Regions from separate parts of the Homo sapiens genome. Here region 1 is reported to be linked to region 2. The links are microRNA targets in miRTarBase. Many come from high-throughput screens and were not tested one by one. Region 2 holds a microRNA gene; the other region holds the end of a gene's coding sequence.

Evidence for each region. The annotated mature microRNA hsa-miR-1208 reads UCACUGUUCAGACAGGCGGA and lies in region 2 at 6,880-6,899, opposite strand. An mRNA with a match to its seed (bases 2 to 7 or 8) in the 3' UTR can be bound and repressed. Matches are read on the target gene's strand: a 7mer-m8 pairs with bases 2 to 8, a 7mer-A1 pairs with bases 2 to 7 and ends in A, and an 8mer does both.
Region 1: the mRNA of DNAJB13 is a reported target of hsa-miR-1208. The part of its 3' UTR that is shown has no 7-base or 8-base seed match.

What each region holds. Positions count from the first base shown.
Region 1 is chr11:73,967,716-73,979,027 of GRCh38, reverse strand. DNAJB13 (DnaJ heat shock protein family (Hsp40) member B13) reads right to left here. Exons shown (of 8, transcript NM_153614.4): 6 at 10,570-10,683; 7 at 9,706-9,782; 8 at 8,747-9,067. The coding sequence ends at 8,914. UCP2 (uncoupling protein 2) reads left to right here. Exons shown (of 8, transcript NM_003355.3): 3 at 551-775; 4 at 932-1,142; 5 at 2,011-2,205; 6 at 2,286-2,387; 7 at 3,357-3,537; 8 at 3,907-4,356. The coding sequence starts at 650. The coding sequence ends at 4,021. Among named protein-coding and RNA genes, the nearest start is that of UCP2, 9.5 kb to the left of the region's middle. RefSeq lists enhancers at 4,650-4,739, 8,583-8,742.
Region 2 is chr8:128,145,714-128,157,025 of GRCh38, reverse strand. It overlaps MIR1208 (microRNA 1208), which reads right to left and starts at 6,910; the gene lies at 6,838-6,910. LOC124902020 (a long non-coding RNA gene) reads right to left here and starts at 6,102. Exons shown (of 5, transcript XR_007061107.1): 1 at 5,824-6,102; 2 at 4,209-4,349; 3 at 2,772-4,002; 4 at 1,607-1,859.

The sequences.
Region 1 (11,312 bases), not on the chromosome of region 2:
TGTGTGAGAGCTGGAGGAGAGAATTAGACTGATGGTCTGGGAAGGGATTGAATTAGTCATCTTGTACCTTTTCTTCTTGACTTAAGTTCCAGACCTGTAGCAACCATTCCTGCTTAGACATCCAGAACATAAGCCTATGGGTCTGTGCCTGTTGGGTCTTAGTCTGGGTGAAACTTTTCTCTACTTCTGTCAGCTCTCCAGATGAACCACAGAAGCAGGAATGTGGGCATCATCAGTGAAATCTCTGCATACAGCAGACAAAGGGCTGGTCCAGTGGCTGTTTATGAGGCAGCGCTAGGAGAGCTCTGATCCAGACTCTCCCTGCAGTGAAAGGGAGGGAGCCCTTCATGAAGTATTGACTGCTTGAGCAGGAATTGCTTCACCAGCACCTAACTGAGTGCCTCTCGAGCTCACATCGGTTTTCCCTCATGAGGCCACTTGGAGTCTTGCTGAGGGACTTGGTTCTATTAGGGAAGGTGAGTTTGGGGATGGTGAGCAGGGAGGGCCTGGGGACATTGTGGCTAATGGGGCTTTTCTCCTCTTGGCTTAGATTCCGGCAGAGTTCCTCTATCTCGTCTTGTTGCTGATTAAAGGTGCCCCTGTCTCCAGTTTTTCTCCATCTCCTGGGACGTAGCAGGAAATCAGCATCATGGTTGGGTTCAAGGCCACAGATGTGCCCCCTACTGCCACTGTGAAGTTTCTTGGGGCTGGCACAGCTGCCTGCATCGCAGATCTCATCACCTTTCCTCTGGATACTGCTAAAGTCCGGTTACAGGTGAGGGGATGAAGCCTGGGAGTCTTGATGGTGTCTACTCTGTTCCCTCCCCAAAGACACAGACCCCTCAAGGGCCAGTGTTTGGAGCATCGAGATGACTGGAGGTGGGAAGGGCAACATGCTTATCCCTGTAGCTACCCTGTCTTGGCCTTGCAGATCCAAGGAGAAAGTCAGGGGCCAGTGCGCGCTACAGCCAGCGCCCAGTACCGCGGTGTGATGGGCACCATTCTGACCATGGTGCGTACTGAGGGCCCCCGAAGCCTCTACAATGGGCTGGTTGCCGGCCTGCAGCGCCAAATGAGCTTTGCCTCTGTCCGCATCGGCCTGTATGATTCTGTCAAACAGTTCTACACCAAGGGCTCTGAGCGTGAGTATGGAGCAAGGGTGTAGGCCCCTTGGCCCTTTTTTCTCAGTGATGATTGATCTTAGTTCATTCAGCCATATAGTTTTTTAGGCCCCACGATCCCTAGGAAGATCAGGGGAACAGAGAACTGGAAGGGGCCCTGGTCCTCCACATAGTTCCTAAGCACCTGGGCTATACCAGGCTCTGAGCAGGGCGTCATCCCATCACAGTCTTCAACACCACCTTGGGAGTAGGTAGTATCATCCCAGTGTTATAGAAGAAGAGACTGAGGTGGGAAGGCAGTGGGTAGAGTGGGGACTTGGCCAGGGGCACACAGTAGAGAGCCAGAAAACACACAGTAGAGAGCCAGGACACTCGTCTCTAAGGCCAGCGTTCTTCCCTTTCACCTCCTTAGTATGCCATGCCAACCCTCCATTTTACACATGACGAAACAGAGCCCCAGACAAAAGGTTGTCTTTCCCAGATCACATGGCAGGAAGAAGTAAAGCTGACCTGAGATCCCAAGTCTTAGGAATCCCAGTCCTCAGAAAGCCACTTCTCTCTGAGCCTTGGTTTTCACATTTGTCAGATGGAAATGATTGTGATTTCTCAGGGCTGTTGAGCAGGTAAATGAAAATGTTTTATGAAAGAAAGCACCAAGTTTCATTTTGGTCTTAGCCCTTGCTATGTCCCTAGCAAGAAGTAGATATTCATAGGGATATTTTGTTTGATGTGAGGAGTTCTTACAGCAAGAGCTTGTAGAAGGCCAAAAGCTTCTGGATTCTATTCCCAAAAGCAGGAGATGACAGTGACAGGGTGGTTTTGGTGAGGAGAGATGAGGTAGAAAATGAGTGCAAGCCCGCTGGCCACTGACCCCATGGCTCGCCCACAGATGCCAGCATTGGGAGCCGCCTCCTAGCAGGCAGCACCACAGGTGCCCTGGCTGTGGCTGTGGCCCAGCCCACGGATGTGGTAAAGGTCCGATTCCAAGCTCAGGCCCGGGCTGGAGGTGGTCGGAGATACCAAAGCACCGTCAATGCCTACAAGACCATTGCCCGAGAGGAAGGGTTCCGGGGCCTCTGGAAAGGTGTGTACCAGTTGTTTTCCCTTCCCCTTTTCCTCCTCCCCGATACTCTGGTCTCACCCAGGATCTTCCTCCTCCTACAGGGACCTCTCCCAATGTTGCTCGTAATGCCATTGTCAACTGTGCTGAGCTGGTGACCTATGACCTCATCAAGGATGCCCTCCTGAAAGCCAACCTCATGACAGGTGAGTCATGAGGTAGACGGTGCTGGGTCTCACCCTTCCCCCATGCCAGGAGCAGGTGCGGGGGTCTAGCTGACACCAGAAGACCACATCTTTTCATCCTATTTGCCCTTTGCAGGGAGAGTAAGATATCTCTTACTTGCCATATTGAAGCCAATTGGGATGAAGCTCCCACTTTGCACATTGAGGAACTGAGGCTAGATTGGCAAAATGACTCTTTCAGGTCCTCAGAAGATGTCTCAGCTGGAGTCCCTGTCTGTTTTTGTTTTTTTGTTTGTTTGTTTTTTGTTTTTTTTGAGATAGAGTCTCACTCTGTTACCCGTGTAATCTCAGCTCACTGCAACCTTCTCCTCCTGGGTTCAAGCGATTCTTGTGCCTCAGCCTCCCGAGTAGCTGGGATGACAGGTGTGCACCAGCACACTGGCTAATTTTTGTATTTTTAGTAGAGATGGAGTTTCACCATGTTAGCCAGGCTGGTCTCGAACTCCTGGCCTCAAGTGATCTGCCCACCTTGGCCTCCCAATGTGCTGGGATTACAGGTGTGAGCCTCTGCGCCCCATCCTCTTGTTTGTTTTTTGAGACAGGGTCTTGCTCGGTTGCCCAGGCTGGAGTGCAGTGGGGTGATTAATGGCTCATTGCAGCCTCGACCTCCCTGACTCAAGCAATCCTCCCACCTCAGCCTCCTGAGTAGCTGGGGCTGACTACAGGCATGCACACTGTGCCTGGCTAATTTTTGTATTTTGTAGAGACAGGGTTTTTGCCATGTTACCCAGTCTGGTCTTGAACTCCTGGGCTCAAGTGATCCACCCACCTCGGCCTCCAAAAGAAGTCCTGGATTACAGGCATGAGACATTGTGCCCAGCCTCTCTGTCTCTTTAAAATCATGAAAACTCGTAGCTACTTAAGTAATTCTCCTGCCTTCTGGAATGATGGGTGAAGATCTTGACTGCCTTGCCTGCTCCTCCTTGGCAGATGACCTCCCTTGCCACTTCACTTCTGCCTTTGGGGCAGGCTTCTGCACCACTGTCATCGCCTCCCCTGTAGACGTGGTCAAGACGAGATACATGAACTCTGCCCTGGGCCAGTACAGTAGCGCTGGCCACTGTGCCCTTACCATGCTCCAGAAGGAGGGGCCCCGAGCCTTCTACAAAGGGTGAGCCTCTGGTCCTCCCCACCCAGTTCAGGCCTCTTGGCTATGCATGTCTATTGTGGGTGGGAGAGAACCACCTGGAAGTGAGTAGCAGCCAAGTGTGACTATTTCTGATCCTGGTCCTGGCATTTCACCAGCATTCACCTATCCCCTTAATTCCTTCCTCCCAGAATTGCTACCATCACTGTTTATTAGGTGTTAAATGGAGACTCAAAGGGAATTCATGCTTATAGCCAAGCAGCTGTGAGCTCAGTTCATTGAGTCCTCCCAGCCTCCTTTGGGACAGAGCAACTGGGTTGGATTGAATACCAGGCCCAGTGAGGGAAGTGGGAGGTGGAGGTGCCCCCATGACCTGTGATTTTTCTCCTCTAGGTTCATGCCCTCCTTTCTCCGCTTGGGTTCCTGGAACGTGGTGATGTTCGTCACCTATGAGCAGCTGAAACGAGCCCTCATGGCTGCCTGCACTTCCCGAGAGGCTCCCTTCTGAGCCTCTCCTGCTGCTGACCTGATCACCTCTGGCTTTGTCTCTAGCCGGGCCATGCTTTCCTTTTCTTCCTTCTTTCTCTTCCCTCCTTCCCTTCTCTCCTTCCCTCTTTCCCCACCTCTTCCTTCCGCTCCTTTACCTACCACCTTCCCTCTTTCTACATTCTCATCTACTCATTGTCTCAGTGCTGGTGGAGTTGACATTTGACAGTGTGGGAGGCCTCGTACCAGCCAGGATCCCAAGCGTCCCGTCCCTTGGAAAGTTCAGCCAGAATCTTCGTCCTGCCCCCGACAGCCCAGCCTAGCCCACTTGTCATCCATAAAGCAAGCTCAACCTTGGCGTCTCCTCCCTCTCTTGTAGCTCTTACCAGAGGTCTTGGTCCAATGGCCTTTTTGGTACCTGGTGGGCAGGGGAGGAACCACCTGACTTTGAAAATGGGTGTGATCCACCTTCCACCTCCAGCATCCAATCTGAAGCCCGTGTAGGTCATCTGGTCCATTTCTCTCTAGACCCAGGCCCTGTACTAACATGGGGAGTGCAGGAGCCACCTGAGAGACAGCAGTGCCTCCCCTTCCTTTGCCGGGCCACTTGAGCTCTTACTCAGAATCTGGTACTCTAGTGCCTGCCATCCCAACCCCCCACCCCAGCCGCAGGCCTGTTTATCTGCACAACAAGAGTGCTCCTGTGTGCCCTGCATCTCCTGCAGTTCCAGAGGAACATGAGACTCTTAGATGCTGTTGACTTTATTTTATTCCATTTTACAAATGGAAGGAAGACCCACCTCCCCCAAAGTCCCAGACCTTGTGAGAACAAGTCAGTCAGCCTCCTTCCACCCTCCACAGCCACAGCCACACCCACAGAGGAAATGTTACTGAACTGGGTGGAGCAGGCCCTGACTCCACAGAGGGTGGGTGGAGGCTGCAGGGCAAACATCTGGTCTCTGCCTGAGGATACTTTCCATTTGTGTTTTTTGTTGTTTTGAGACAGAGTCTCACTTGCTGTCACCCAGGCTGGAGTGCAGTGGTGCAATCTTGGCTCACTGCAACCTCTCCCAGGTTCAGGCGATTCTCCTGCCTCAGCCTCCCAAGTAGCTGGGATTACAGGCATACACCATCATACCTGGCTAATTTTTGTGTTTTTGGTAGAAACGGGGTTTTGCCATGTTGGCCAGGCTGGTCTCAAACTCCTGACCTCAAGTGATCCACCTACCTCAGCCTCCCAAAGTGCTGGGATTACAGGCATGAGCCACTGTGCCTGGCCAGGATATTTTCCATTTGGAGTCTCACCACCACAACCCCCCTCCACCTGCCCCTGCCCCAGCTAGGCATCCAAGGAGGCCGCAAGAAGCCAGGGCCTTGGCTGCACAGGGGTCTCCGCTTCTCTGTCCCTGTTCTTATCACCTGCACTCAGAGGCAGGTGGGCAGGGGTACTACAATTTCAAGGAGTGGAGACTGTGAGGTCCTGGAATCCCAAGGCATCTCCTGTAGGGCTGGGCCCTTAGAATTATGTCACTCAGACCCAGTTTGTAGGTGTCTGAAGAAACTGAGGCCTGACACAGGTGATGCAGGCAAGAACACCCAGAAAGTCCACTACTGAACTGGGACCGGGACCCAGTCCTCCTTCCCCTTGTGGACTCCCCCAGAGACCAGTGCTGGGGTCCTTGGGGAAGCCTGTTTGGCAGCTGTGGAGCTAGGCCCTGAGAACACGACCACCCTCCCTCTTCCCTCAGCCTCAAGCCGCTGAAGCCACTGCTGCTTCGCCGCCTCGTAAGCCCAATGGTCAGAGCTGGAGGCTAGACCCTTCAGTGCTTGGGTTGAGGGCCAGGGTGTTAGATTGGTTTTTGGAGAAGGAACGAGGGCCCAGGATTCTTCAGCTTCTTAGTTTTTGACAAATTGAGCTGAGGCCCCATAGTCCTCGGGAGGGACAGGGTTGAGTGCCATAAGTCGGCAAACCAGGGTAAAGGTGACAGGCAGCTCAGCCAGGCTGCAGGGGGTGGCATATACAGAGGACCTGGCCACTACTTTATGTACCTTCTTACACTAATTCTGTGAGGCAGGCTGTTTGTTAGCTCTGCTCTGGACGGGAAGAAGTAGGGGCAGTTTGGTAGGTGTGTGTCAAAGCTAAACAGGCTGGGTGGGCATGAGCAAGTCAGCTGGTTCATTCAGCAGCCTTAATAGACACGAGGCTACCCAACTTCACTGTGGTTCTGGGTGTGGCCTTAGGACAATGAGCTGGGAACAGTGGTAGGAACCACTGGAAAACATACCAGTGGGTCTCATTCATTCTGATCACAGGTAGATCACTTCTCTTTGGTTCCCAACCCTTTAATGCCTATTAAGTGGGCAGATGATAAGCCCTGCTTTGCCTAATTCAAGGTAACACTGAAGATCACTAAGGTAATAGGAATCTCCTAAGGGACTTTCAGGCCCAAGACCCAGGCTTCCTTCAAGATAAGGAGTAGGCTTTCCTGCTGCCCTACAGGAGACCTAGAGTTGAAGAATTTCACAGCCCTGCCTCTGCACTCCAATTCAGGGCTTGCCCTCAGAACAGGGCAGCTCTCACCATCCCACTCCACCTGAGTCCTGCCCCAGAGCATTTCATGCCTCACCATCTGGTTTCCATGAAAGGCCTGCAAGGTAGGGGCTGTAAGCTTTAAGAAACGGGTTCAGAGAGGTGAAGTGATTTGCCCAAAGGCACACAGCTGGCTAGTAGCACACTGGGGATCCAGAACAGGTGTGTCTGACTCCAAAGCCCACATGCTTTTAACTACTATGCTGAAATGCTTCCTGGAGCCCTGGTCCCAGAGTCTTCACCTCAAGGTCTTTGGGTAGCTGACTTCATGGTGATTTTTTTTTTAATTTTAAGATGGCGTCTCTTCTGTCGTGCAGGCTGGAGTGCAGTGGCAAGATCTCAGCTCACTGCAACCTCTGCCTCCTGGGTTCAAGTGATTCTCCTGCCTCAGCCTGCCAAGTAGCTGGGATTACAAGTGCATGCCACCATGCCCGGCTAATTTTTGTATTTTTAGTAGAGACAAAGTTTCACCATGTTGCCCAGGCTGGTCTTGAACTCCTGACCTTGTGATCCACCCGCCTCGGCCTCCCAAAGTGCTGGGATTACAGGCATGAGCCACCGCGCCCAGCCCATGGTGATTTTTTTAATGACAAAAGTGCTACTGAACCCCCGTTTTAAAAAAAAAACCTTAAGCTGATGTGATTTGAATGGTGGAGTCCCAAGCAATCTGGAGAACATGGGGCCTTTTCTGGCACCTCTGAAGGCATTCCATGGAATTGGCTACCTACTCCCCGTAAGCCTGGATCTATCCTCACCCAAGCTCAGACTCTAGAAGGGAACCTCCCTGGCATGGAAGGGGAGCATAACACACGTGTTGACTATGAGGAGGCAAGTGTGGTCTACGCAGGCCCAGTTGGACCTGGATGCTGGAACTCCAGGCCTTGAGGGCAGCAGTGCTGTTACCCCTTCCTGAATCTAAGCAGTGAGTTCACCAAGCACTTTCACATCAATGTTCTCTGTCCTCACAACATGCCCGTGAGGGGGGTTATGGGCTCTGCTTTACTGACAAGACAGGTGTGGTGACTGGTCCCAGGAGAAAGTGGCAGGGCTGGGGTCAGAACTCAGGTTTCCTGCCTCCCAGATCACCCTGCCCAGGACCCTATCACAGACCAGGGGATTGAGGCCAGAGAGGTAGAACCAAAGCTGTTTCCAGTGCACATGTGTTCTTTATGCTGCTTCTCTACGCAGGGCGAGTCTGTGGGAAGTGACCTTCAAGGTTTTTGGGGGTTTTTTTTGTTTTTTGTTTGAGACAGAGTCTTGCTCTGTCACCCAGGCTGGAGTGCAGTGGCGCAGTCTCGGCTCACTGCAACCTCCACCTCCTGGATTCAAGTGATTCGCCTGCCTCAGCCTGCCGAGTAGCTGGGATTACAGGCCCTCGCCACCATGCCCAGCTAATTTTTGTATTTTTAGTAGAAACGGGTTTTCACCATGTTGGCCAGGCTAGTCTTGAACTCCTGACCTCAGGTGATCCACCTGCCTCGGCCTCCCAAAGTGCTGGGATTACAAGCATAAGCCACCACACCCGGCCTTTCTAGTTTTTTTGAGATGGAATTTCACTTTCGCCCAGGCTGGAGTGCAGTGGTGCAATCTCAGCTCACTGTAACTCTGCCTCCCAGGTTCAAGCAATTCTCCTGCCTCAACCTTTGGAGTAGCTGGGATTACAGGTGCCCACCATCACACCTGGCTAATTTTTGTATTTAGTAGAGACGAGGTTTCACTATGTTGGCCATGCTGGTCTCGAACTCCTGACCTCAAGTGATCCGCCCACCTTGGCCTCCCAAAGTCCAGGCATGAGCCACCGCACCCAGCCACCTTCAAGGTTCTGATGACAGCTTTGCCACTGAGGCCTGAGTGACCTGCAATGAATGTTTTCTTTTGTGCTTTAGTTTTCCTGTCTCTAACGTGACCATATCATGCTCCAGAGATTGTCTCTTCTGTCATGAAAAGCCAGAGCAGAGCTAGAGACCCTCAGAGGCCACACAGCCCTGCCCCACTCTATCAAAGTGGAAGCACAGAGGATCTGAACCCTTACCTGCCCTTTCCCACAAAGCCAGGACAGGGACTCAGGCACTCAGCTCCTTAGGCCTCTTTCTTCCCTGTGCCCCACAAGAAGGGCTAATATGAAGCTCCTCTCCAATGTACTCTCGTGGGTGTAGCTGGAGGACAGGAAATAGATCTTTATTATGTCAGTTTAAGCCCTGCGCCATCCCACCCTTGTATCATATCTGTGCAGCAGGCTCCCCTGCACACCCTGAGGCTGTGGCGGGTAGGGGTGGGGTGAGGCCCGGCTAGCCTCCTCTCACCCCTGCTCCAGCCCACCACAGTCATGTCAGCAATGCCTGGCGCAGCATCTGCTTCTTCTGGGGTGTGAGGCGGGTGGGGAACTGGATGTCGAAGAAGATGAAGAGATCCCCTTTCTTAGTGGGGTCCTCCGGCAATGGCATCCCCTCCCCTGGCACCTTCTTGAAGTATTTGGGGCTGAAATAGGATGAAAGAAAGGAGCATAGAGGGCATCCCAGAGCAGCACCTCAGCAGGTCCCTGTCATATAACCCCTACTCACATAACCCCAGGAAGGGGACAGTCACTGCAGTCTTCACCTGGAGTGGTTCTTAGCCAGAACTGGTTGGGAAAGGAGCTCCCTGAAAACCTGTTTACACTGAGTCTCTGATGGAGGATTCCAGAAACTTTGTTTAAGACATGGGAAACGGGAAGTAAAGGTGAGCAAACCCTGGGGTGAGGGCGAGGGTGCTGGGCTGCCAGGCAAACCTCCTCACGGGCAGAGGGCCTTTCTTGGAAAAGGACTTAGGATATGCAACTCAGAACTCTAATGAGAAGTTTGCAGGGCATGGAGGCTACAGGGTTGCCCAACAATGGGGGCCTCTAGCCTCTGCAGTGGCTTTGTGTGGATTAGAAAAAGATGTTCCTTTTGCCAGGTGATTGCAGCCCACAGCTTGGCCAGTGTGGGTTCAGTTTTGGTCCTCTCTATCCCCTCAGCAGGGAACCCTTCTGCTGGGGGCAGCCTGTACAACTCTACTGGGCAGACCTGTCACACTACCACCTAAATCCCAGGCTAGCCCTTCTCTTGGCTACTGGGGCCCAAGGCAGATGGACTCACTGGATGATGTCATTGATGGGGATGTTGAGCAGACGGTCATCTAGGGTCCTCACCTCCACAGTGCAGCAGGTGAGAGCCTAGGGAGGGTCAGGGCCAAAGGTGGGGCTGAGGAGGGTCACCATGGCTCTCCTATTTAGAAGGCACCTTAGGAACCTGTCCAGTGCCAGACTGTGAGTTGGGCACAAGGGAGACGAGGCTGTTCAATAACTAATAGGTGAATGACCCATGCAATTTTCTGCACTGGCAGGAAAGATGGATGGATCTGGCAGGTAAGATGGATGTTGTATAAATGTAATGATGGAGACAGAATAAAAGCGTTTGTGGGAGCCAAGGAGAGGCCCCTAAACCATTCAGGAGTGGGGCAGGAAGTGGTAGCAGTGGTGGTAGCTATTGATGAGGACCCTATAGGGTCAGGTGAATAGACAGCATTCCAGGGAGAGGGCCCAGCAGAAATGAGAACGGAGGTGTGACAATGCGCCACACAGGCAGGGTGCTATGCGGCGAAGGGGCGGGAGTGCAGGGGAAGGAGTAAGCAGGGAGCAGATCGCAGAGGGCCTCCAGTGGCACAAAGATGTTTAGACAGGAGTGTGGCAGGGTCTGATGAGTGTGTGGCAGGATCCCTAAGGAGAAGAGCCTGGAGGAGATGAGAAGTGGGGAGGAAGGCCTGCTGCGCAGATCTGGTGTACAGATCCAGGCGGTGCAGATGAGCAGACGGGACCAAGTGGATGGTGATTTAGAGGGTGGAATCCACAGGGCTTAGTGACTGATGGCAGGTGGTTGTGGGAGGGGAGGCCAAGTCTAGGCCGGGGCAGGCAGGGCTCACTCTGATCTCCTCCCCGCTGCTCCTGCACTTTGCCCACTCACCTTGCCAAGAGGGATGGGGTTCACGAAGAAGAGGTTGTCATTCTCCCTGCGGAAGCGAGGGTGTAGCTTCTCCTTTACGATGAAAATGATGTCTGCTGGGATGATGTTGGGGCCCTGGGCAGGGGACGCCAAAAGGTGACAAGGACTAGTTGGCCGTGTGACCTTGGCCAAGTTCCTGCCTCTACTTGTCTCCATGTCTTCATCTGTACAATGGGGAGATGAGAGCAGGTTTTCTGGAAGGGCCTTTTCAGTTTGGCCCCCATAGCCCAGATGGATTAGAAGCCCGAGAAGCTTACCCAAATGAATCCCCCCAGAATTACTTCTGTACTGAGCATGCCCAAAATAGACACACTCAGCTGGAGGGGCGGAGAGGCTTCCTCAGACGGCAGGCAGGTGGAACACTAAGCTGGGCGTCAGGCAACTGCCCGTATGTCTCTGTCTTGCTAGTAACTCCAGGCATGACACCCCTGTCCCAAACTTCATTAAGTCACCAAAACTCTGCTGAGGTCTCTTCTGGGCGCTGGGGACAGAGGAATCAGACTGGCCCCTAACACTGACAGTGAATCCTCAGCACGCTCAAGACATGATAAAGGGAGGCCCAGAGGCTGGGGCTCAGAGGAGGCTGCCCAGAGCGGGGAACACTGGAGCTGGGTTTTGAAGCGTGTTTATTCGAAGTAGATGTTTTATTTGTATTTTGTCTGTTTGTTTTGTTTTTAGACAGGATCTCGCTCTGTTGCCCAGGC
Region 2 (11,312 bases):
TGGATAGGAAGCCACTTACATGGTGACTTGTTACATAACAACGACCGACCAATTCCATCTCCTAGAACAGTGATCGGCAAACCAAGGTCTGGGCCTAGGCTCTGTTTTTTGTCTTTTGTTTATTTTTTTTTTGGTTTTTTTTTTTCCTTTTTCTGGAGAACGGGGTCTCGCTATATTGCCCAGGCAGGTCTCGAACTCCTGGGCTCAAGCTATCCTCCCGCCTCTTAGCCTCCCTGAGAGCTGGGATTACAGGCGTGAGCACCGCACCCGGCCTAGGCTCTGTTCTTGTAAAGAAAGTTTTATTGGAACAAAAAAAAAAAATCCATATATTTACATATCATCTATGGCTGCTTTCCTGCTGTAACAGCGGACTTCAGTAGTTGTCACAAAGACCGAGTGATTTACAAAGCATAAATATTTACTATCTGGCGCTTTACAGAAAAATAATTGCTGGTTCCTGCCCTAGAACAAGGTTTCTCAAACATTAGCCTGCATCAGAATCAGCTGGAGGACTTATTAAACAGATGTAGCTGAGCCCGAGACCCAGAATTCTGATTGGGTAGGTCTGGAGTGGGACTCAAGAGTTGCACTTCTAACAAATTCCCAGGTAGATGCCAATGCACTGGTCTAAGGACCACACTTTAAGAACCACTGCCCTACCACAGTGGTTCTCAACTCTGGCTATATATTAGAATCACCTGGAGAGCTCTAGTGTTGCGCCCTGGGATATCAGTAATTGCTGAAGAGCTGGCCGGGCACGGTGGCTCACGCCTGTAATCCCAGCACTTTGGAAGGCCAAGACAGGCGGATCACGAGGTCAGGAGATCGAGACATCTTGACCAACACGGTGAAACCCCGTCTCTACTAAAAATACAAAAAATTAGCCAGGGGTGGTGGTATGCGCCCGTAGTTCCAGCTACTCAGGAGGCTGAGGCAGGAGAATCGCTTGAATCCGGGAGGCGGAGGTTACAGTGAGCCAAGATCGTGCCACTCCACTCCAGCCTGGTAACAGAGCAAGACTCCATCTCAAAAAATAAAAATAAAAATAAAAATAAGCTTCCTGGGATTTTTAGATTTAGAACACTACTTGGGAGCAACGCTTTTAGTCATTAAATTATTGTTTGAGCAGCTACCATGAACAAGCAACTGTCTTGAAAACCATTTTGAGGACACAGTACTGAACCCGAAGGAACTCCTAGTTTGAGGAGGAGACACACGGATAAATAGCAAAAGGGAAGCTATGTGCATGCTGGAGGTGAGCATTCGGTGAGAGGGACATCCCAGGGATGAGCTGTCAGGCAAGGCTGGGAGAAGAGTAGGAGGAGGTTACCTGGGGGAGGTGACACCAGAAGCAAATTTTGAAGAGAGAAGTGTAATACACATTTCACCAATAAGGAATATGGACTCAAAGTTTTAGGTCGCTTGGCTAGGATCACATTCTAGTATGTGGCGGGTCAGGGTCAGGAGCCAAACCCAGCTGTTGGAACATTTCCTTCACACCCCGAAGCCTGTTTATGTTTGTCCTTCTGCATGACAGGTTAGTCGGGGGTTCTGTTCCAGACTCCAGTCTCGTACACGAATGTAATGACATCTACAAAATAAGTACCTTCTAGAGTTGTTGTTGTTGTTAAATGATGGATGTAATTGAATCGTGGTATGATTCAGAAGGCACATCAGGGTCTTCAGGTGTCTCAAGGCCATCCATTCAAGCAGCAGTCATCCAAATATTCTAGGTACGTCAGAATCCTCACTCATCTACATTTCTGGTTGAAAATTGTTTTGTGTATTACAGAGAGACAAGAAGATATCATTTGCCTCTGGATGGAAGTATACACCACCACCTGATGTAGTATTCTTGCCTGAAAATCAAACTTAAATTCAATCAAGGATCTAAGTACCATTTACCAGGAAAACAGTGAACCACAGAGAGGCAATCTGAGAAATCCAGACAGAATGAATAACTCAGTGCAGAACAAACAACTCAGCTTCTTCAATAAATTTAAATTGTGAGGAAAAGTTTGTTATGAGCTAAACTGTGTCCCCTCTTTACAATTAAGATGTTGAAGCCCTAACCCCCAGTACTTCAGAATGTGACTCTGTTTGGAGATAAGGCCTTTAAAGAGGTAACTACGTAAAAATGAGGTCATGTGAGTGGGCTCTAATCCCATATGACTGGTGTCCTTATAAGAAAAGGAGATTAGGGCCGGGTGCGGTGGCTCAAGCCTGTAATCCCAACACTTTGGGAGGTCGAGCAAGGTGGATCATGAGGTCAGGAGTTCGAGACCAGCCTGGCCAGCATGGTGAAACCCCATCTCTACTAAAAAAATACAAAAAATTAGCCAGGCATTGTGGCTCATGCCTGTAGCCCCAGCTACTCCAGAGGCTGAGGCCAGAGAATTGCTTGAACCCTGCAGGCGGAGGTTGCAGTGAGTGGAGATTGCACCATTGCACTCCAGCCTGGGCAACAGAGCGAGTCTCCAACTCAAAAAATAAAATAAAAAAAAAAGAGGAGATTAGGACACAGATGGTCCTACAAAGGACCATGTGAAGGCATACAGAGAAGATGGTAACCCACAAGCCAAGGAAAGAGGCCTCAGAAGAAACCAACACTGCCAACACCTTTATCTCAGACTTCCAGCTTCCAGAACTGTGGGAAAATATTTCTGTTGTGTGAGGCCTCCAGTCTATAATATTTTATTATGGCAGCCCTACTACACTAATATCGGGTTCCTTCTCTTTAGAGCCAATGCTTAGGGCATTATTCAACATACCTTTGCAAACAGCCTCCAGCAACTTCCATCAGCTGGTCTGGTCTTTGGTTACAACTTCTGGCATTATGTAATAAAAAGTCTTATCCTTCTTCCACATTTGAACCCTTTACATGAGGAAAGCTGCCTGCTACTCACAAGACTTCCCTTTTCTGCCCTAAACACCTCAGTTCTCTCACTTGTTCCCAGGCTGCGGCTTCCAGACCCTCCCCAAGCACGGTGCTCTTTAAACATCTGAAGAAGGCCTACACCCTTGAAGGCTCGCCTTGCTCAGGGCTTATGAATTCGCTGTTCCCTTTGCCAGAGACCATCCTGGCCTCAGATATCTGCTGGGCCCACTGCTTTGCTTTGTTTGGGTATCTGCTCAAATGTCACTTCATCAGAAAAATATCCCCTGGCCTTTTCATCCTTCACCCCTTTACTTTGCTGCTTCTCTTTCTATAGCATATATTAGACATTTATACAAATCATTATGGGTTGTCTGTCTCCATCCAATAAACTGCAAGTTCCCTGAGGACAGGTACTCTGTATGCATCCCTGCTGCATCCGCTGCACTGAGGACAGGACCTGTTGTTCTGAAGGGGCTCAACCTGTATTTCTTGGATGAGTGAGTAAATGATAGCTGTTTTTAAAGTGAGGCATTTCAGTTCCAGGTCACAGCAAATATCTTTGCTTATTTCCACCCCTTCCCTTTAAAAAGGCTCAGCAACAAGCCTAAAAGTAGCAGAAGGAAGCTCTGTCAGCGGCCACCCAGCACCCTCAGAATCACTCCCCCCACAAAAAAAAAAAACCGCCAGCCCGCCCAGGCTGCAGCTGGACAGCCCGGAGACACTTCGTGGCCATCTGCAGACCACCGGGCCCGTCAGCCGGCTGGGGAGACAGCAGGAGGCCTCAGGGACACGTGCTTCAGGCAGACGCGCACCCACCCCGAGCACATTCGACTTTCTCCTCAGCAGACGGCTCGTTTGCATCTGCCCATGTGTACCTTGGCTTCCACAGCCTCTGTTTACAAATCTGGGTCAAGGAAGGACAGGAATTCCAACAACACGCGATTTACAGAAGCCGGCCCGCGGCCTGTTCTCATTTTTCCTTGTAAGAAGGCCGTGTGGAGCAGCATTGAGTCACTGGAGTTGGAAGCCACCCAGACCTAGTTGATGTCCAGCTGTCATCTGTGTTTACCATCATTGCAACTTGGGGAAAATAATATGATCTCTGTGAGCCTCTGTTTTCATGCCTTTTAAAAAGAAGATAATGATACAAGCTTATCAGAATTAGAACTGGTATATGAAGAGAGTAGCCCATGGAAATCATTCAATAATTTGATATTATTATTTACATTCCCAAGTAATGCTCTAGTGTGTCCCATCTCAGGCAGAATCCTGGAGTTGTCCTTGATCCCACTTTCTCCCAAAGACAATTGGCCACGGTTCTACCTCTTACTTTATCATGAATTCAGGAAGACTGGCTGTTCCTAGCACAGGCTCAGGAGTTGTCCCCTGTGATGTTGGCCATGTCTCCACCACTTCTGGCTGGGTGATGTTGAGCATGTTATTTATCTTCCATGTGACTTCGTTTTTTAATCTGTAAAATAGAATGACAATGGTAGGTGTGGAGTTAACACTGTTGATTCCCTACTAAAATCTTCTCCCAACACTCTTCTCCATTGCTACCTCTTGTATGGAAACTGAGAAGCCAAGTATCAGAGTTCCTACCCTTCTCTGCATCCAGGGATGTGCTGTGACTCATTCTGGCCCAAGATACAAGCAGAATTCTGCTGATAAGTGTTGACAAAGCTTGAAGGTTAGGTTATAATATCCATGGGAAATGCTTACAGAAAGGACTGCCTAATAGAACAGAGATGCCTGTGGAATGAATGTAGCAAGGTAGACACCAAGGAGGAAACAGAATTCAACGAGAAGAACGAGGTGAGGACCAGGTGCTATGAGAAGATTTCAGGGAGGTGGATGGTGCTGGAAGAAAAGATAGGACCTGGGCAGGGCCTGGACATCCCACACTGCTTTAAGACAATCTCGGAAGCCGCCTGTTCCTTGAAGGGAGCTAGTTAAAGAGTCAGTACAAGGGACCCACCATTCATCATTGAACTGTGAAGTGGTTATAAATTGGTCTCCACATCATCTGGTTTACATGGCGCACATTCCAGTCACCATTAAGTGTGAACGGTGTCTTTCATCTCATACTGTCTGGCAGCCGTCTCACCAGACAGGGCAAAGCTTTGCGGGAAACCCCAGGACATAGGGCTGTGCACAGCAAGGTCCCCTGGGCTGCTCTGCAGTGGCCACAGCCCCACTTGGGGGAACACTCATGTATGATACCCCCTCATGTGCCCTGTCCCAGCTGGAGAGCTGCTGCATTGTGTCCAGGCCCTTGGAGGCATAAAGGTCATGGAGAGATGTCAGGAAAAATTCCAGTGAATGGGTCTGCTATAATCACAGAAACTGCTCCTCACTTTCCTGAATGTCGTGGGTCCCTTCCACCCACCCAGCCACCCCATGGTAGAACCGCTAATATTGGGGAAGAAGCCAGAAAACAAACAGACAGAAAACATTCCCCCGAAAGAGTGGCTCTTAGGTGTCCCAACAAGGTGAGCAATTACGGTCCAGAGAGTGTCCAGATTCTGACTCCCAGCAGGGGTGGTGCTAGCCCCAGCTTGGAAATTGTTCAAATATGTAAAAGGTTATATTATGCTAGGCACTCAGTAGCCCTTTTGAAAACATGTTTTAAATACCTTCAGTGTCTAATTTCTCATAGGCTTAACCTGGAACACAACCACACAAATGTTCTTTCCAAAATGCAAATCAGACTGTGTCACTTTCCTACTCAGAGACTGGTGGCTCTGCCTTAATGATGAAATTGAAGCTCAGCCTGGCAGATGTGTCCACTGTTTCCTCTTTCTCATTTCTCTTTATATGGATGCCCCAAACTCATTTATATTCCTCAGACACACAGTGATACTCCTCCCTGCTTGCTTCTGCACATCATTGCATTCATTCAATAACATACTCATTCATTGAATGAAGATTTATTAAGCACTTACTGCATGCCCATATGTTACTTATTAGGATACAATGATGAATAAGAACAAATGCCTGTCCTCAAAGATCATATCGTCAGGAGTACTCATGCCTGGCAGCACATCAGAATCGTCCACAGGGCTGCTTGAAAGCACAGAGGTTTGGGCTTCATCCTATCTCAGAATGAAAAGAGAGGGAAAGGAAACAGCAAGCAAAAAAATCATAAGAGAATGAGGGGAGCTGATTACAAATTTCTCCTGTTACCTTCCTGACAACCAATTGGGTGAATGGGCTGGGCTGTAGAGCCAAAAAGACTGGTTCAAAACTCAGGCATTTTTATATTCTGGCTTGCTGGGACATTTCCCCTTTGCATCTGTGGCTGTGAAATTATTACTAGTTCTCCCTTTTACTTTCAAAAGTGCCCTGTTTTGGATGATAAGTTCTATAATCACCTTATTCTATAGTCAGTTTTACCCTTTCCTACCCGTGAACACGTGGGGGAAATGGCTGCAACTTTCTGAGCCTCAGTTTCATGGTCTGTATCGTAGAGTGAGCCATACCTACTTGAGAAGGTGTGAGAATTAAATGAGATGATGTTTGCCAAGTGCCTGGCACAGTAGATGTTTAATTCACAGAAGCTGTTGTTATTGTTTGCCTTGTAGAAAGTGGTTTTCATCTGGTCTGCATTTTTCACTGTCAAATGAAACGAGACCTCAACGATGAGAACATTGAGATGAAGCACAGAGCATTTATATCGGTGGAGAGGATGGCCTGGGTCAGCAAGACATTACTTGGGTAGTCACTGGCCAGGGTGACAAGCCTGTCTTAAGAATCTCTGTTACAATATTAAAACTTCAGCTCAATGGCCTAGAAAGCTTAACTTTACTACCCTCCTTGTTGGTTTAAATTTCTATAGCATTAGGTCAAATGCCAGCAATGGGCCCAGAAGGAGGGAACCGCAGTCTATTTTGATGTCCAGGGTCAGGCTGAGGAGAGAGACTGACACATTATCTGTCTGGCTGACTGTCCACTCCCCCCCACCACAGTGGTGACTCATCAGAGGGCGAGAAAGACCCGTCTCCGCCTGTCTGAACAGTGATTCTGCCGGTGATTCATTGTTGCCCACCAGAAAGCCCCCTTCTTAATGTCCTCTTTCTGAGCTCTTCAATTAGCATTTGAGGCCAAAGGATATTTAGAGGGAAGGGAGGGTAGAAAGATCCGCCAGTCGGACCGAGTGTGGCTTCACTCAGTGGCAGTGGGACACAGGGAGGGAGAAGAGGAAGTGCTGGGTACGGCTTGCTCCCAGAGTAGGAACTTGGAAACAGCTAGAGAAAAAATATATATATAATAAATGGTGAATATTTATAACATTGCAGAGGTCCTTAGGGGTGAAGGAATCTCACCAAAGACAGGAAGAAGGGCCAAAACTTTATAGAAATTAGAAATCTTTTTGGATGACATTGCATGAAGCTTGCTATGTGAATGGATTGTTTAAAAGTCTAAGGTATGTCAAACTGAAGATAAAGTGGATCAACATGAAGAGAATATTTGTAGTCTAGGATAAAAGGAAGACTAAGGCAGGACTTATCCAGTGCTGTTCTAGAAAGACAGTTACTGAGGCTGGTAGATATTCAAGTCTCCAGAATTATCCATAAGTTCTCTAGTATGGGCCTAAAAGTGATTAGTTTTCCCAAAGTGTGATAGGTAAAATTAGTAACATATATACACATAAAGAAAAATTCTTTTAGGAGTAATCTGTGCATTCATACCACTTGTACATCAAACCAAGATTATCACATGTATTTTTCTTTGAACACAATTAAGTAAAAATATGCAAACTTTTTCTTTCTCCAGACATGCCAAGCTTCAGCTGAAACTCAAGCCTCATGCAGTTTTCTCTGCTTGGAATGTTCTCTGCCCAGCCTTCACCTGCCCAGCTTCTTGTCCTACAGGTCTCAAGTCAAATGCCTTCTTCTCAGTGAAGACTTCCCTGGCCACCTTGTCAACATAAATGTCATCTGGTTATTCTCTCTCCAGCCTGTGGCCTATTTTTTCTAAAGAACTTTTCAGAATCTCATCCATATCTTGGTTTACTTGTTTGTAACCAGTGTCTCTCCTCCAGAATGTAAGCTCCAGGAGAGCAGCACTTCCTCCTTGATGTTATTCCTGCTTCAATCCTTAGCGTCTAGCCCAGTGCTTAATACAGATTTGTTGAATAAAGATCCATTAAAGTGAATTATGGACTTAATAATGCCATTCTTGCATTGGGGAAAAAAAATTGTGGAGTTGTAGTAAGGACATGGAGAACCTGGACATGGCCATAGGAAAGTGTAAAATGTTTGGTGATAATTATACTTTTCCCCCTCAAATGAGCCACAGACCTGAGAGTTAGGTAGGGATGAACTGTTTTCCCATGCTGGTAAATATGAATTAGAACACATGGCTTAGAAATGAGTCAAAAACAGGTTTCCCACTCCTGCCTCTTCTGATAGAGATGACTTACTCAGTTACAGCTAGAAAACTTCAAGCTTCTCTCTTTCGTTTCCTCCCTCCTTCTCTTTCCCACCCCTCCTATCACCCTGACTCAGGGAAAGGGCTGTCCCAGGGGACTGACCTTACAGAAGAGGTAGAAGCTGAGAGAACACCTGTGACTCTGAAAGCCATTCTTTCATGGGGAAGAGCAGACTAGGATAGAAGCTTCCTCCAAAGCTCTTCTGAGATTAAAATTTCTATATGGAAGTGAGCTAATGCAGGAATGGGTGGAAGTAAAATGGATTTCCCTAGAGTAAATATCATGGTCATGCATGTGTCATGGGAGAAAAGGGAAGCTGAGGACCACTGTAAACCACCATCAGTTCCCAGAGATCCGGGATTATGTCTTCAACTACTATTCAGAGACCACTGATCCTAGCATGTATTTTGTGCCTGGCACACAGTAGTGGTCAATCAGTGTGTGCCTAACAGTGTGCTCCGAAGGAATGGAAGACTATATGAATGATTGACTATATGAGTGATTGAGTGAATAAAATATGCATTATACTTCTGCCTCTTACAAATCTAGTTAATGTGAGTCTAATCTTAAACCCTGCTCACCTTAGAATACAGAATAAAAAATATATTTTTTAGACACACAAGGCTGAAAACGAGAATCTGGACAGAAGTGACCCCACTAATTTCTGGCAATGTTGTAAACCCTCTTGGGACACCTTTTAGCCCCAAGTAATCTGGGGATCTTACAGTGGGTAGTTCACATAACCTGTGATGAACCAATAAGCCATCTCTGCCTGCATTCAGTCTCTTGAGGAGAGGTTCTTAACTTAGGTCCATGAACTCTTCAAGGATCAGAATGCAGACACCTGGAGGCCTGGGAAGAAAAAGGAAAAAATACAGCTTGATTTGCACTCACCTGTAATTGAAATTTAGTATTTCTATCACTTGTGTATGTAGACAACACACAGTTTATTAGCAATAGCTGTGATTTTTGTCATCCACAGAAATGACAGATAATTTCATATCATATGTCAGCTGTGGCAGAGATCATGAAATATTGCCCTCGTGTCTATTTCAAAGTTACATTAGTTACTGAACTTCTGCTAGATCTTCTTTGATGCCTTCAAATAGCATATAGAGCACTTGTGGTACTCAGGCTTCTAAGATGACCTTCAATGACTCCACCTTCTGGCTTTCACAACTCATTTTCAGCTCTCCCTTGAGAGTGAGCTGAACCTAGTGACTTGCTTCTCATGGATAGAATAGGGCAAAGATGAGGAGGTGTCACATCCACGAGGAGATTATAAAAGATTATGACTTTGGTCTTGCTCACACTCACTTTCCCTCTTACCTCCTCACTCTGACAGAGCCAGAGGCCACGTTGTGAGCTGTCCACAGAGAGGCCCACATAGCAAGAAACTGAGGGCAGCTTCTGGCCAAGAATCAGTGAGGAAATGAGGCCCTCAGTTAGACATCTTGTGAGAAACCAAATTCTGCCCACAAGCCTGTGAGTGAGCTTGGAAGCAGGCTCATCCCTAGGCCATCTCAAGATGACTACAGCTCTGGCAGACACCTGAATTGCAGCCTCATGAGAGATCTCAAGCAAAAGGACCCAATTAAGCCACGCCCAGGCCCCTGACCTGCAGAGACTGGGAGATAATAAATGCCTGTTGCTCTAATACACTTTTTGTTGCTCAGCAATGGATAACTAATATCATTTGTGTGTGTGTGCATGTGCGTGTACTGTTCCATAACAGTTTTTTGCTATAATTAGTTTCCTTTGAAATCCCATGTATCTTTATTTAATTCATTTAAAGTCATTATTCTGAGAAGAGATCATAGGCTTCACCAATCTGCCAAGGAGGTCTATGCCACCCAGAAGAGCCCCTGCCCCAGACTCTGTTTTGAAGAAGACATGGGTTCTTGGAAAAGGGATTATATATCATTATTATTATATAAAGGGTATATATATATATATATATATGTGTGTGTGTGTGTATGTGCATGTGCGTGCATGTACAAATACCACATTTTCTTGAGTTGGAGGTGGTGAAGTGGAGTTTGGTCCAGCTGATGGTTGCTCCCCTGAGGTTGGAGCAGTAGATTCTCATCCAGACAGCAAGAGACACCAAAGGGAAAGAAGAGAGCAGAGAATCTGTGTGGCAAGTTTGAGCCCAAAGTCTGAAGAGTGACAGAGCAATGGGGCAGATAGAGAAGACAGGGATAGAGCCAGGAATGTCAGAGTTTGGGGAAAAAGAGGCAACCTGAACTGCAGTAAAACAGGGGTCCTGAGAAAATTCTGTATCCCCAAGTGATTTGGCCTGATTAAATTAAAAGCCTGGATCAGCAAAGAGAATGTCATCTCCCCTCCCATTTAGAGTAGAAATCCCTTGCTGTGTGACAGGCATTTAGGCACTGCTTTCTTGCACCTGTTACCAAAGTCTGCCCGCCCACCTAAATGGTAAGCTCCTTGGGGGCAAGGCCCATGTGTTCTTGTTTCCTTTTAATTCCAGAGATCTACTGCAGCATATATGTTCACACATCAAATATCTGCTCAGAGACAGTGCTGGGCCTGGGAAACAGAGATGAATTAAGTTCAGTCTATCTTGAGTTGATTATGGCCTAAAGAGGGAGACAGATCAATACAGGCATTGACATTAAAGAGCTTCAGTTCAAATGTGAACTGCATTTCTGACCTCCAACCCTTGACTTTACATCTGTTAAAGAAAGGTATAACACTCATCTTGCTGGTTTGTGGAACATTAAATGAAATAATATACTTCCAGAGCCTTACATAAGGCCTGACATGGGGCAGACACCTCTACCTTGCTTCTGATTCTCACACCATTTCCAGTCTTATGATCACAAGGCCACAAGTGTTTATGTGAGATCAAATTCCTGTGTAAAAGCTGTGGCAGACTTCTAAAGACAAGTCCTTCTCCCAACAAGCTTTCCTTCTCACTGCAAGATAATGTTCACCCACATGCCATGTTCTGTGAGCTCTTGGAAGCAGAGACCATGT